2 separate regions of the Homo sapiens genome follow, and region 1 is linked to region 2. A link means that fine-mapping ties the variant in region 2 to the expression of a gene that starts in the linked region. Tissue or cell type: whole blood. Region 2 holds a variant in brackets; the other region holds the start of a gene. All regions are shown on one strand. Distances are between the middles of the regions.

Region 1 (7,574 bases), 23 kb after region 2:
CACTGCATCTATGAGGTGAAGATATTCTATTATAGTGTATTTGAAGTTGGCCAACGTCAGAATATTTACACCACAGATATAGGCAAAGGCTATAAATCAGGTTCCCCACTACCAACCCCACCCCTCACAGAGTCAGTTGGTAAACATTACCAGCACACAACTGCCTATCCGTCCAAGTCTTTATTTACAGCCCGAACTTCCCCTAAACTCCAGACTCATGCAGTCAATTGCTATTCTGAGAGCATGAGTGGGATGTTTGCCAGACTTAATATGTACAAAACTGAACTGATTTCTCTCCCAATCTGCTTCCAATGTAGCTTTCCCCATTATCAGTAAATGACAACTCTATCTTTCCAGGTGTTCAGACCCAGAAACCTTGAGGTCATCGTATCTGTCAGCAAATCCTGTAGTTTCTATCTTCAAAATTTATCTAGAATACAACTGCTTCTCACCACCTTCCACCACTCCACTCCAGTGCCAGCCACCGTCATCTCCGTCTGGATTACTACAGGAACTTCCTAATTGGCCTCCTCTGTCTACCTGGACCCTCTATGGCTGAGCCTCAACACGGCAGTCAGAGTGACCTTTTTATAGCTCCAGCTGGATCATGCCATTCCTCTGTGCAGATGTCTGCAGAGTCTACACATTCTGGCCTCCCACCCATTACCTCTTTGATCTCTTCTCTTACCATCCTGCCTGTCTAGGCTCTGGCCGCCCAGCCTCCTGCCTCAGGGCCTTTGCACTTGTTCTCTCCGCCTGGCCAACTCCCCCATGTCCCCCACCAGGTCCACGTGGTTTACTCCCTCACTAATTTTTCTTTGCTAAAATGTCATCTTCTCAGTGAGGCTTACTCAGACCACTCTAAAATTGTAAACCGCCCACCCCCATCCTCCTCTCCTGCTTTATTTCTCCCCACAGTACATCGCTTTCTAATATACTGTATGATAATTACATTCATTTTGCCTATTGTCTGCCATTCCTTTTCCCAAGAGTGTGCGTGCCAATGAGGACAGGGACTTTTGTTTGTTTTGTTCTCCGCAGTACCTCCAGTATCCAAAACAAGGCCTGGCATACAGAAGGCGCTCTATAAATATCTGCTAAATGAACAAATAAATCCCATTTGCACAGGACCACTGTCATTTCTGCATTTGAAATACGGCACAAAGGAATATACCTCTAATGGTGACTTCAAGCACTGTGACACAGCACACAGCAGCAGCTTACTACTTGGAACAACACTTTTAATAATAAAAGAGCTATTTATGGAGTATTTAACTATATGCCAAATGCTAGGCTATCGGTGTGACATGCATCACACCATTTAAATCTTGCCACAACCATATGAGGTAGGTAACATGATTATCCCCATCTTAGCAGGGAGTAGAGAGGAAACTAAGGCAAAGAGAAGTCAAATAACATGGCCAGGCGCAGTGGCTTACGCCTATAATCCCAGCACTTTGGGAGGCTGAGGCAGGAGGATCATTGGAGGTCGGGAGTTTAAAACCAGCCTGGCCAACACGGTGAAACCCCGTCTCTACTAACAATACAAAAATTAGCCAGGCGTGGTGGCAGGTGCCTGTAATCCCAGCTACTTGGGAGGCTGAGGGAGCAGAATCACTTGAACCTAGGAGGCGAACGTTGCAGTGAGCTGAGATTGCGCCCCTGGGCAACAGAGCAAGACTCCATCTCAAAAAAAAAAAAAAAAAAAAAAAAAAGAGAAGTCAAATAACTTACCAAAGGTCAAGCAGCTAGAGGTGATAGGATTTGAATACAGGCAGTCTGGTCCCAGAGCTAACCTTCCCGTAAAATGTGACTACATCCCTGAATGGCAAAATGTAAAACACTGTATTACATTTACACTGTATCAGTGTAGATACTGAACAGTGGTTTAAACCAGACAGGCTGTTTCTCTGCTCCATGAAGTCAAGCTGTTCCGAACACTAACTGCGGTAACCAGCCTCTGCCTCCCGGGTCCGCTTTGCCTTTCACAGTTCTTCCTTCTGACATCATGAAGACATCATGTATAAGCCTCAGTTGCTTTGTTGAAACGTGGAAGACCTTCAAGGGCTAGTTTTTGGAGAACTGGTTACATAAGAATATTCTGGATTCAAATCCCTGCCACTCAGTAACTATGTACCCTCAGACAAGTTATTTAACCTCTCTGTACCTCAACCACAGAATGGGAAAACAAATCGATGGGAAGCATGTAAGGTACTTAGCACAATGCCTGGCATACAGTAAGCACCCAAGAAATCCTAGCTGCTTTTTTTTTTTTTTTTTTTTAAGGAGAAGTCTAGCTTTGTCACCCAGGCTGGAGTGCAGTGGCACGATCTTGGTTCACTGCAACCTCCGTCACCGGAGGCAGGGCGGTTCAAGCGATTTTCCTGCCTTAGCCTCCCCAGCAGCTGGGATTACAGGCATCCGCTGCCCCCATGCCCAGCAAATTTTTGTATTTTTAGTAGAGACGGGGTTTCACCATGTTGGCAAGGCTGGTCTTGAACTCTTCAAGTGACCTGCCCGCCCTGGCCTCCGAAAGTGTTGGGATTACAGGCGTGAGCCACTGGGCCCGGCCAGAAATGTTAGTTTCTATCATTAAACCATTAGCTTCACGAATGAAGTCCTTCTTGCTAGCTTCTTGAACTGCTGTTAAAACCAACTAACCAGCTGGGCGCGGTGGTTCATGCCTGTAATCCCAGCACTTTGGGAGGCCGAGGTGGTGGATCACCTGAGGTCAGCAGTTCAAGACAAGCCTGGATAACATAGTGAAACCCTGTTTCTACTAAAAAATACATAAAATTAGCCGGGTGTGGTGGCACGCGCCTGTAATCCCAGCCACTCAGGAGGCTGAGGTGGAAGAATCGCTTGAACCAGGAGGAGAAGGTTGCAGTGGGCCGAGATCGCGCCATTGCACTCCAGCTTGGGCAACAACTAACCATCAACCACAGAAAAATGCCAAGGAAAAACTCAGACAGCTTTTCATGATCTTCCAATCATAATGATGAAAAATTAAAGGGATATGATGCATAATTTAAAATACGCTGTCTGGGCGTGGTGCTTCACACCTGTAATCCCAACACTTCGTAAGGCTTAAGCAGGAGGATCGCTTGAGCCCAGGAGTTCGAGACCAGCCAGGGCAACATAGTGAGACCACTGTCTCTACAAAAGGTTTAAAAATTAGCCAGGCGTGGTGGTGTGCGCCTGTGGTCCCAGCTACCCCGGAGGCTGAGGCAGGACGATGGCCTGAGCCCAAGAGGTGGAGGCTGCAGGGAACCGTGTTTGTGCCACTGTACTCCAGCCTGGGCAACCAAGCAAGACCCCATCTTTTATAAGTAAAAGATTTTTTACTTTTATATAAAAAAGTAAAAAGATAAAATAAAAAATATGCCCATTTGACACCAGTTTTCCCTCATCTGCTGCCTTTCATGAGCCATGGGCCTGTTGTGGGTGCAGGGGGAGTGGGCAAGGACACTTCTTTCCAGAAGTTCTCACTTCTGGCTAAGCATTCAAGGTTGGGTGAGCTGATTTTCAGAGATCCAGAGAGGTTTGCCCCTGGAAAACCGTTCACTAGATCCGGGTACGGGAAACGCTATGTGAAACCCGAGGGCCAATCAATGCCAAAGATTAAGCAGGTCCCGGGGGAAATCTCGGAGTTCCCCCTCTCCTGGAACTCAGTTCCGGGAAGCCCAGGGAAAGGACAGCTCGGCCGCTCGGGGCGACCCTGGAGGGAGCCTGGCCGCCTCCTGAGCAGTTCCAAAGCCGCCAGCCCCAGGCTCCGTGGGGCTGGCAGCGCAGGCTCCGGGGCTCGGCGCGGCCTCGGGCCCGGCGGCAGCGCGGGTTGGAGGCGCCGGGGCCGGGGCGGCGGCGGGGCCGGCGGGGGGCGCTTACTTCCTCTCGCGCGGCGGCGCAGGCCGCTCCTCCGGGACACGGCCGGGGCGGCGCTGAGGGCCGGGCCCGCTCCCGAGGGCTCCCCTGCGCCCTGGGCCGCACCTCCTCTTCCGCAGGGCCCGTCACTCCGACAAGTGCGCGTGTCACGCGGCCACGCGCCGCACGACACTCCGATACCGCCCGCGGAGCCCGCGGCGGCCGCAGGGGAAGGCGCGAGGCCAAGGCCAGCCCGGCCGCCACCCCGCCCCAGGCCTCAGGCCTCAGGCCTCCACCGCCTTGCGCTCAGCAAGACTGGGGCCCGGGCCGGGGGCGCGCGCGGCGGGGGCGCGCGCGGCGGGGGCGGGGGCGGGGCGGGGGCGCCGGCGAGGCCACGCCCTCCGCTGGCGGCCGCCGGGGCGGGGCCTCGGAGCTTCCGGGGCGAGGCGGTGGGTCAGCTCCGAGCCTCCGCCCCCGCCCTTCCCTTCGGCCCCCTGGTGGCCGTGCGTCCTAGAGCTGTCCTGCCGCGTCCGAGACGCGCGCGGGACCCAGAAGTGGCCGAGGGACGTGGTTGTGTCGTGGAGGGGACCCGGGGTGCTGGCTGCTCCCTACGATCTGGCACCCGCTCTGGGACTCCTCAGGCCTCGCTTTTCCCCATCTGTAGAATGAGCGGCTCGGTCTTTCCCGTCTTCAATATCCAGAGTAGGGATTTAGAAGTCGGAGCGCACACGCTGGCCACGCCTCCGCGCACAGCTTCAGATCTCTGCCACCCCTTATCACTTGTGTGACCCTGAGTTCAGTTTCTTCATCTGTACAGTGGGGACAATGGGAGTACCTGCCTCCGGGGTTGTCTGGCACTTGGGTGCTTAGTAAGCGGAAGCTTGGACCCGTGTGGCAAATAGAAGACTTTTGCTAAGACATTGCTAAGAAAGACAGCAAATGGAATCAGGGCTTCTCTGTAGGGTGAGAGGTATTTAAGTGAGAAAACGGGATCAGCTGCCTCTCAGAGCACTCAGTCCCCTTCCTGTCCCCCACCATTATCAGGCAGTAGGTGGCCCTCACCATGCTCCCCAACCTGCTCCCCACTTTTTCTTTTTTCTTTCTTTTCTTTTCTTTTTTTCTTTTTTTTTTTTTTTTTTTTTTTTGAGACAGGGTCTCGCTCTGTCACCCATGCTGGAGTGCAGTGGCGCTATCACAGCTCACTGCAGCCTCCGCCTCCCAGGCTCAAGTGATCCTCCCGCCTCAGCCTCCCAAGTAACTGGGATCACAGATGTTCGCCACCACTCCTGACTAATTTTTCAACTTTTTGTAGAGACGGGGTCTCACTTTGTTGCCCAGGCTGGTCTCGAACTCCTGGGCCCAAGTGATTCTCCCACGTTGGCCTCCCAAAGTGCTGGGAGGAGATTCTGACCTGAGAGAGAAACTGTGCTGCAGCTTTTTATTTCCCGATGGTTCCATTAGAGGTGGGAGCGTCTGGAACTAGCAGTGGCAACTTGGCAGTGGCCGGCAGGACTGAATGGGGCCAACAGGCATGATTACCACACAGGATGTTAGGCAAGGGGTTCCGGGAAGGCTGGGAACTGAGGGGAGCTGGGCCTCACCGTCACCAAGGCCAGAGGCCATCCGGGCGCCCGCAGAGGGCTGCCAAGCCTCGGCAAGGATTTAGGTCACACTGAGTGGGCCTGGCAGAGGGGGGAGCCAGGGAGCCAGGCACTCTCTGGGCTACCTCCACAGCTGGAAGTGAGCAGGAGGGCTTAGGGCAGGAGCGGGCCAGAGCAGACTCGAATGATGCCGGGACTCTTGGCCTAGAGCCCTTCCCATGTTCTGTGGCCCTGAGTGTGTCAGGCACCCACATAGCTCTGAAAACCAGGGCCCAGGAAGGCACAGATAGAAGTGGGCAGGTGTCCAGAGGCATGACCGGGGGTTCGTTTCCCAGATCTCCATGTGGCCATCAGAGGGTGATCTGCTACCTTGAGGGCTTCTTATAAATAGCCCCAGGTCAGGCGTAGTGGCTCATGCCTGTAATCACAGCACTTTGGGAGGCCGAGGCAGGTGGATCCCCTGAGGTCAGTAGTTCGAGACCAGCCTGGCCAACATGATGAAATCCCATCTCTACTAATAATACAAAAAAAAAAAAAAAAGCCAAGCGTGGTGGCGTGCCTGTAGTCCTAGCTACTCAGATGGCTGAGGCACGAGAATCGCTTGAATCCAGGATGCAGAGGTTGCAGTGAGCCAAGATCGCGCCATTGCACTCCAGCCAGGGCAACAGGGTGAAACTGTGTCAAAAAAAAAAAAAAAAAAAGCCAGGCACGGTGGCTCACGCCTGTAATCCCAGCACTTTGAGAGGCCGAGGCGGGTGGATCACCTGAGGTCGGGAGTTCGAGACCAGCCTGACCAATATGGTGAAACCATGTCTCTACTAAAACTACAAAATTAGCTGGGTGTGGTGGCGCATGCCTGTAATCCCAGCTACTCGGGAGGCTGAGGCAGGAGAATAGCTTGAACCTGGGAGGTGGAGGTTGCGGGGAGCTGAGATCGCGCCACTGCATTCCAGCCTGGGCAACAAGAGTGAAACTCGGTCTCAAAAAAAAAAAAAAAGAAAAAAAAACAAAGCCCCAAACCAAGTCAGTTGTAACCTGCTTACTAAGAAAACGTCCACCTGATTAGGTAACGTTGGGGTGGGGTCTGAGGGGGGAATTAGCCTAGGGGGTCACAATGCCCTCCCAACCCTATGTCCACTCCCACACCACCCTGAGATGTTTCATTTCTCCGCCTGTCTTTCCTCACCTTACCTTCACCTCAGTCTCATCCTGCCTCTGTACCTTCCAGTTTTCTCTGGGCAATCAGTTGCTTTGCTTTCTTTCCATCATGAAGACGATTAGGTCGTGCTAAGACCCAGTCATCCTGGTGTGAGAGTACTGCCACCCAAAACACAAAAATCGAAAACTTTGTCCCTGTGGGCCCTGGCATTGGTTTCTGCACCTTTGCCTGTCTGAAGCTTTTCTTGTTTCCGTGCTGACCGCAGCTACAAGGGACCAGGTGTGCCCAGAACCCCGTGAAGGAAGCCGGGAGAATGAAGGAAGCCGGGAGAAAGGAATGATGCCCCATGGGTGGTCCAGGGGGTGTCCTGTGACCAGAATTCTGTCTGTGGTTTATCTCGTGCTTTATAAGGAGCGCCCTGGGGCTCTATTTATGAAGTGGATTTTTGGGGATTTTTCTTCCTAGCCCTTTAACTGTGGTGTAGGCAGAAGTCAGGGTGAATTCAGCCTGCTTTACAGACAAGGAAAGTGAGACCCAGAGAGATGAATGACTCACAGAGATGCCTGTGGAGTTAGAAATAAAATCCCATTGCAGTTTCTATTTTCAGGTGTCACTCCCTAAGGCAGCTCTGCTGGCTTCGTCTTGCTTCTCGCAGGAGGTGGGGAGGGAGGGAAACAGGTAGAGATTTTTCAGCCACGAGTAGATCTTTTCATCCTCAGACATAAGGAGCCTCTTTTTAAAAATTTTTATTTTATTTTTTGAGACGGAATCTCACTCTGTCACCCAGGCTGGAGTGCAGTGGCACGATCATAGCTCACTGCAGCTTCAACCTCCTGGCTCAAGTGATCCCCCCGCCTTAGCCTCCTGAGTACCTGAAACTACAGGTGTACGCCACTATGCCTGGCTAATTTTTTTCTTTCTTTCTTTCTTTTTTTGTAGAGCTAAGCCCTCAC
Region 2 (7,574 bases):
GGCCAGCCCCTCGCCCCGCCCTGCCTGGCCACTGCCAGTAGGAGGCTCGGCACTGTGGGGGCTATGGCACCATGGCGGGGGCTGCAGCACCCCAGAGTATGACTGCCACTTACTAGCATGTGATCTTGGGTAAGTTACTTGACTTTTGTTCCTGCATCCTGCCCTTGGATGAGACTAACAAGTGCCACCTCACTACCGGGCGCACACCTGTGCCAGGCAATGTGCAGGGGAGTGGGAGGGAGGGAAAGTGGGAAGAAGAGAAAAGGAAGTAAACAAAATTACAGAGCAGTTGTGACAGAGGGTAATGAAAAGGCCCCTCCGAGACCTGAAGAGCCAGCCTCGCAAAAAGCCAGGGAGAAAGCATCTCAGCTGCAGGGACCCTCAGGTGCCAAAGCCCCGAGGCAGGAAGGAACTTGGTGTGCTGGGGGCCAGATGGAGGTGAGCAAAGAGTGGGGACAGCGGTGAGGCTGGAGAGGAGATCAGGGGTCTTGCAGGATAAGGCGAAGAGGCTGGACTTTTTTCTAAGATCAGTTGTAGGGGGGACACTGGAGGATCTGAGGCAGGAGAAGACGAGACCTGACCTATATTGGGGATCGACCCCTGGTCTTGGGGGGAGAATGGGTGCAGATGCAGGGAAGGCAAGGAAGAGGCTGCACAGCTGCCCAGCAGAGACGACAGGGCCTGGACTAATGGGCAGTACAGGAGCTGGAGGGGAGGGAGAGGCACCCCAGAGTCAGGATTGACTGGACCTGCTGACAGATGGGGTGGGTGTGAGCAAAATGGAGGCCCCCAACATGAGCCCTGGAAGTGGGGCCTGAGCAGAGGGATGGGCAGTGGAGGCGCTCACAGACACGGGGAGGCGGAAGCAGAGGGGTTTGGTGGAGGGTTTAGGTGTGTTTAGGCTGAAGACCCCCAGGCGCAGATGTCCAGTTGTCAGGTGTACGGGGTAACTGTGACGATAAAAGGGAAGAACACCTGGAGAACATGGAGCAGCACGACCAGCATAACAACAGCAACATAACAACACCAGCCTAACAACACAACACCAGCATAACAGCAGTGCAGCAACACCAGCGTAACAACAACATAACAACACCAATGTAACAACAGCAACATAACAACATTGGCGTAACATAACAACATCAGAATAACAGCAGTGCAACACCAGTGTAACAACAACATAACAACAGCAGAGTAACAACGGCAACATAACAGCAGCAACGTAACAACACTGGTGTAACAACAGCAACGTAACAACACTGGCGTAACAGCAACATAACACTGGTGTAACAACATAACACCAGCATAACAACAACAAAACAACACCAGCATAACAACATAACACCACCGTAACAACAGCAACATAACAACACTGGTGTAACAACAATGCAACACCAGTGTAACAACAGCAACATAACACTGGTGTAACAACAATATAACAACACTGGCGTAACAACAGCAACATAACAGCACTGGCGTAACGACAACATAACAGCACTGGTGTAACGACATAACACTGGCGTAACAACAGCAACACCAGTGTCAACAGCAATGTAACAACACCAGCATAACAACAACATAACACCAGCTTAACAACAGCAATATAACACCAGCTAACAGCAACGTAACAACACTGGCGTAACAACATAACGACACCGGCGTAACAACAGCAACGTAACAACACCGGAGTAACAACATAACACCAGCATAACAGCAGTGCAACAACACCAGCATAACAACATAACAACAGTAACATAATACCAGTGTAACAACAACATAACAGCAGAGTAACAACAGCAACATAACACCACCAGCATAACAACAACGTAACAACACTGGCGTAACAACAGCAACATAACACTGGTGTAACAACAACATAACACCGGCGTAACACCAGCATAACAACAACAAAACAACACCAGCATAACAACATAACACCACCGTAACAACAGCAACATAACAACACTGGTGTAACAACAATGTAACACCAGTGTAACAACAGCAACATAACACCGGTGTAACAACAATATAACAACACTGGCGTAACAACAGCAACATAACACCGGTGTTAAGAGCAATGTAACAACACCAGCATAACAACAACGTAACACCAGCTTAATAACAGCAATATAACACCATTGTAACAGCAACGTAACAACACTGGTGTGACAATGTAACAACACTGGAATAACAGCAACATAATACTAGTGTAACAACCACATAACACCAGCATAACAGCAACGTAACAACACTGGCGTAACAACAATATAACAACACCAGCATAACAACATAACAACACTGGCTTAACAGCAACATAACACTGGTGTAACAACAAGTTGTTGTAACACCACCACCAGTGTAACAACAACACAACACTGGCGCAACAATGGTGTAACCATACAACACCAGTGTAACAACAACATAACAACACTGGTGTAACAACAGCAACATAACAACACCGGTGTGGCCAGGCATGGTGGCTCACGCCCATAATCCCAGCACTTTGGGAGGCCAAGGCAGGCGGATCACGAGGTCAGGAGATCGAGACCATCCTAACATGGTGAAACCCCGTCTCTACTAAAAAATACAAAAAATTAGCTGGGCGTGGTGGCGGGCGCCTGTAGTCCCAGCTACTTGGGAGGCTGAGGCAGGAGAATGGCGTGAACCCAGGAGGCAGAGCTTGCAGTGAGCTGAGATCGCACCACTACACTCCAGCCTGGGCGACAGAGCGAGACTCTGCCTCAAAAACAAAAACAAACAAACAAAAAACATCAGTGTAACAACAGCAACATAACACCATCATCGTAACAGCAATGTAACACTGGCATAACAACATAACACCGATGTAACAACAGCAACATAACAACACCAGCGTAACAACAACATAACAACAGTAACACAACACCAGCATAACAACAACATAACAACACCAGAGTAACAACAGCAATGTAACAACACTGGTGTAACAACAACATAACAACACCAGCATAACAATGTAACAACACCGATGTAACAGCAGCAACATAACAACACCGGTGTAACAACAACATAACACTGGTGTAACAATGTAACACCAGCGTAACAACAACAAAACAACACCGGCATAACACTGGCACAACACCGGCATAACAGCAACATAACAACGGTGTTAACAGCAATGTTACAACACCAGCATAACAATATAACACCAGCTTAACAGCAATGTAACAACACTGGTGTAACAGCAACATAACACCAGTGTAACAACACAACACCGGCATAACAATGGTGTACAACACCGGTGTAACAACAACATAACACTGGTGTAACAACAGCATAACAACAGCAACATTAACACTGACATAACAACATAACAACACTGGGATAAGAATGACAACACCAGTGTAACAACAACATAACACTGGTGTAACAACAATGTAACAACCCTGGCGTAACAATATCGGTATAACAACGTAACAACACGGGTGTAACAACAGCAACGTAACAACACTGATGTAACAACACCAACATAACACCACCAGC[G/A]TAACAACAGCAACATAACAACACTGGCGTAACAACACCGGTGTAACAATAGCAACGTAACAACACCAGCATAACAACACCAACGCTGACAGCAGCCCCGGCCCGCGCCGCTCCTCCCCATACTCACAAAGACCCTGCACGCAGGCACCGTGATCACTCCTGCTCCGCGAGTGAGGAAGGAGGCAGGTGACCAGGCGCGGGGGCAGAAGCAGACACTGCTTAACCACGAGCTCCGCTCCACTCCCTCCTCTGAGGCTGAACCCCGGTGAGCACTGATTATCGGTGACTCGAATATACAGGACAGTCCCAGAGATCAGGGTTCCAACGCATACCACCTCGCAGGAGAGTTCCAATGCCCAAGTCTCCTCACACCCTCACCTACAGAGAGAGCCTGGCCTCAGACACGAGGAGCCATCATTTCTCAAAGGCTTCTGCACGTAGGACCCCTAACCTGGGATTTGTTTGTTCACCCAGCAAACTCCCAGTCATCCTTAAGGGCTCAGCTTCTAGGAGCTTTGGCCTACCCCTTCTGAGGGGCCCTGGCTTCTTCTAGCCCAGCTGACTGTAATTCAGGCCTGTTTCTCTTTCTTCCCCACTACGAGGGAGGCTCCATCTGAGTGGCATCTGCCCTCTGCTGCATCCCTAGCCCCTAACACAGCACTACGTTCAGACAGTGGACAGCAGAGAAAATGAAGATCCACACATTGTCACGGATAAACCTCCAAGACGTAATGTGGTGAGAAAGCAACATGATTACTTTGATAAAATAAAAATTAACTTGAAAATAGGATATAGGCCAGGCGGACTGGCTCATGCTGGTAATCCCAGCACTTTGGGAGGCCAAGGCAGGAGGATCACTTGAGCCCAGAGTCCAGGAGTTCAAGACCATCTTGGGCAACAAAGTGAGACCCTGTTTCTACAAAAAATTAAAAAAAAAAAATTAGCCAAGTGTGGTCCCAACTATTTGGGAGGCTGGGGTGGGAGGATTGCTTGAGCCCAGGAGGTCAAGGCTGCAGTGAGCTGTGAACCTGCCACTGCACCCCATCTGGACAACACCGCATGAGACCCTGTCTCAAAAAAAAAAAAGAAAGAAAAAGAAAACAGGATATAAAGTGACCAAAATAAACAGAACTTCAATAAATGAAAAATATAATTGGAAACTAGAAATTCAGTAGATGGGCCTTACAGATGAGAAACAGCTGTAAAGAGTCAGCTAGCAGAAGACAGAGCTGAGGCGATTCTCCCAAATGCTGGACACAGAGACAAAAAGATCCATGCTCGGACACATACAGGATGACTCTTGTTCAAAATTAAACAACAGGTTGTTTAGGGAACCAGGCGTGCATGGAAACAGAAAGAGAAGCGAGGGAATAATCTATCCACAATTTGGAAGTGTAAGATGAGGAAATAGGTCAGAACGTGGGGAGGGACACGCAGGAGAATCAAATTCTTTTTTAAAAACGGGTGGTAGGTGCATCCCCGTTTCTTATACCATAGTTCTGTATCTCTTCCATGCATTCTGTAAACTTTAAATTTACCTAGTATCTAGTTAACATTTAATTCCAACAGACAAAAAGCAGCAGATCCTAAGTTCAGGCCTGCTGAGCCCAGCATGCTCCCCTCCCAGCAGCCACTCTGGGTCCATGGCGCCAGTCCTGGGCACCTGCCCTGACCAGGTTGGTGGTGTGCACTCTCGGGCCAACCAGACAGCAAGCATGTCCAGGTCATGGCTGGGGGAACAACCTGCCCTGAATCCAGCCCGATATGCCATTCCCGACAGCAGCACCAGTGTTGGGGGGCAAGAAATGAAGCCGGCAGCCACTCGTAGGAAGGCACTCTGTCCCCGGCCATAACAACCAGGAGCTAGAGGGTGCAGCTCTGTCCAGGGATACTAAACCTTGAAATGAGCAGGAAGTCCAGCCCAACTGTGCCAACCAAAATGCCAAGAGTGGTCTCCACTGGGAAAACAATGGCTGAGATCCCCCAGCTCTGTAGTGTTGTGGCCTTCAAGTTCTTGTGCTATTGTTGAGAAGACATCCAGAAAAAGAGAAACTGATGCCAGCAATGTTTGTGGATCAGTCCATTTATCCTCAGAATAACAACATATAAGGAGGCCCCTCTATTTCCCCTATTTTAAAATATAAGGAACCTGAAGTTCAGAGAGGTTGGATAACTTACCCAAGGTCACACACAGCTGGTAAAGAGGTAAAAATAGCTTCAAACCCAGGCAGTTCGACCCAGAGCCTGCAATTCTTACCACCAAAACATTTCCCTTTTAATTACCCACTCTTCAACCCTACAACAGAACGGTGTGAAGTTGAGTGGCGTGGGCACCACTGGCCTTTAGAAACAGAGCACAATGAAGAAGCCGGCTGAGCTTCTGGAAGGAGGGGTCTAGGGCAAAGCTCAGAGATTCCAATGCCTACCGGGGCCAGCAAAAGCGAAAAGGATGGAGTAAGGCTGGTGTCCCTCAGAGGTACAGTTAAGTACCTCAGGTGCATTCAGGTGGTGCCTCACAGGAGTGTGGGCCCAGGGTGACCAAATCTTCCAATTCTCCTTTTCGGGAGAATGTAAAAAGACAATTCTTCCCTTCCCCTGCAATAATAGAACAGGAAAATCAGGAATATCTTGCATTTGAAAGGGACCTAAGGCCTGGCACAGTGGCTTATGCTTGTAATCCCAGCACTTTGGGAGGCTGAGGTGGGCAGATCTCCTGAGTCCAGGAGTTCAAGACCAGCCTAGGCAACATGGCAAAACCCCATCTCTACAAAAAATACAAAAATTAGCTGGGCATGGTGAAATACACCTGTGGTCCCAGCTACTTGGGAGGCTGAGGTGGGAGGATCACTTAAGCCTAGGAGGTCGAGGCTGCAGTGGGCTATGATTGCACCACTGCACTCCAGCCAGGGCGACAGATAAAGACCCTGTCTCCAAAAATAAAAAATAAAAAATAAATAAATAAATAAGAGTTATTGGCCTCAAACAGTTAAACAGAGTCATGATCCTCCAGCAACCCCACTCCTGGGTTTATACTCAAGAGAAATAAAAATGCAGGTCCACACAAAAGCTTGTACATGAATGCTCATTGCAGCATTATATATAACAGCCAAAAAGTAGAGGCAACCCAAATGTCCACTAACTGGTGACTGGATAAATTATGGTATATCTATACAATAAGATATTATTCAGCAGTAAAAAGAAATGAAGTGCTGGTACATGCTAGAACATGGGTGAACTCTGAACTCAGGATGCTAACTGATGGAAACCACACACCGTATGATCCTATATGTACAAAATATCCAGAACAGGCAACCCCGCAGAGAGAATGCATTTCTGTGGTTGCCAGGAGCTGGGGAGAGGGGGAAATTGTGGGATGACAACGAAGGGGTACAGGGCTTCCTTTGCCGTGATGAACATGTCCTAAAATTGATTGTGGTACTGACACACAACTCTGTGAATACACGAAAGCTCACTGGCCTGTCCACCTTAACTGGGTAAAGTGTAGTAGGATTTGTGAGTTACAGCTCAATAAAACTTTTTAAAAAAGGTTTTAGAACAGGGAAGCAGAAGCACGAAAGAGGTACTTCAGGAAGATGAAGCTGTCTGCGACCTCCAAGATGAACAGGATGGGACTGGTGGTAGTGAAATCAGTGAGGCAGCCTTTGCTGCCATCAAAGGAAGTAACAAAGGTAGGAGGGAACGAAGTCACAGTGAACTGCAAAGAAGTTATTATAGCAGATGAATACAAACTACTTGGTGACTGGCTGGATCCTTGAATGGTGGTACAGAGCTGTGATCTGGAGTGTGGTCTCTGGAGCCAGGCTGCTCCAGTTTATTTTATCTTATTTTATCTTATCTTATTTTGTTTTATTTTATTGGAGATGGAGTCTCCCCATTACCCAGGCTGCAGTGCAGTGGCGCGATCTTGGCTCACTGTAACCTTCGCCTCCTGGGTTCAAGCAATTCTCCTGCCTCAGCCTCCCGAGTAGCTGGGATTACAGGCACAAACTACCATGCCTGGATAATTTTTGTATTTTTAGTGGAGATGGGGT

Evidence for each region. PIP is the estimated chance that this variant, and not a neighbour inherited with it, causes the effect.
Region 1: H6PD starts here. The variant in region 2 is fine-mapped to the expression of H6PD in whole blood (TOPMed, PIP 0.99).

What each region holds. Positions count from the first base shown.
Region 1 is chr1:9,231,378-9,238,951 of GRCh38, reverse strand. It overlaps H6PD (hexose-6-phosphate dehydrogenase/glucose 1-dehydrogenase), which reads right to left and starts at 4,178. Exons shown (of 5, transcript NM_004285.4): 1 at 3,886-4,178. RefSeq lists a silencer at 3,766-4,325.
Region 2 is chr1:9,254,179-9,261,752 of GRCh38, reverse strand. All of the region lies in intron 3 of H6PD (hexose-6-phosphate dehydrogenase/glucose 1-dehydrogenase), which reads right to left. Among named protein-coding and RNA genes, the nearest start is that of H6PD, 23 kb to the right of the region's middle. The variant G/A (reference allele first, on the strand shown) is at 3,523.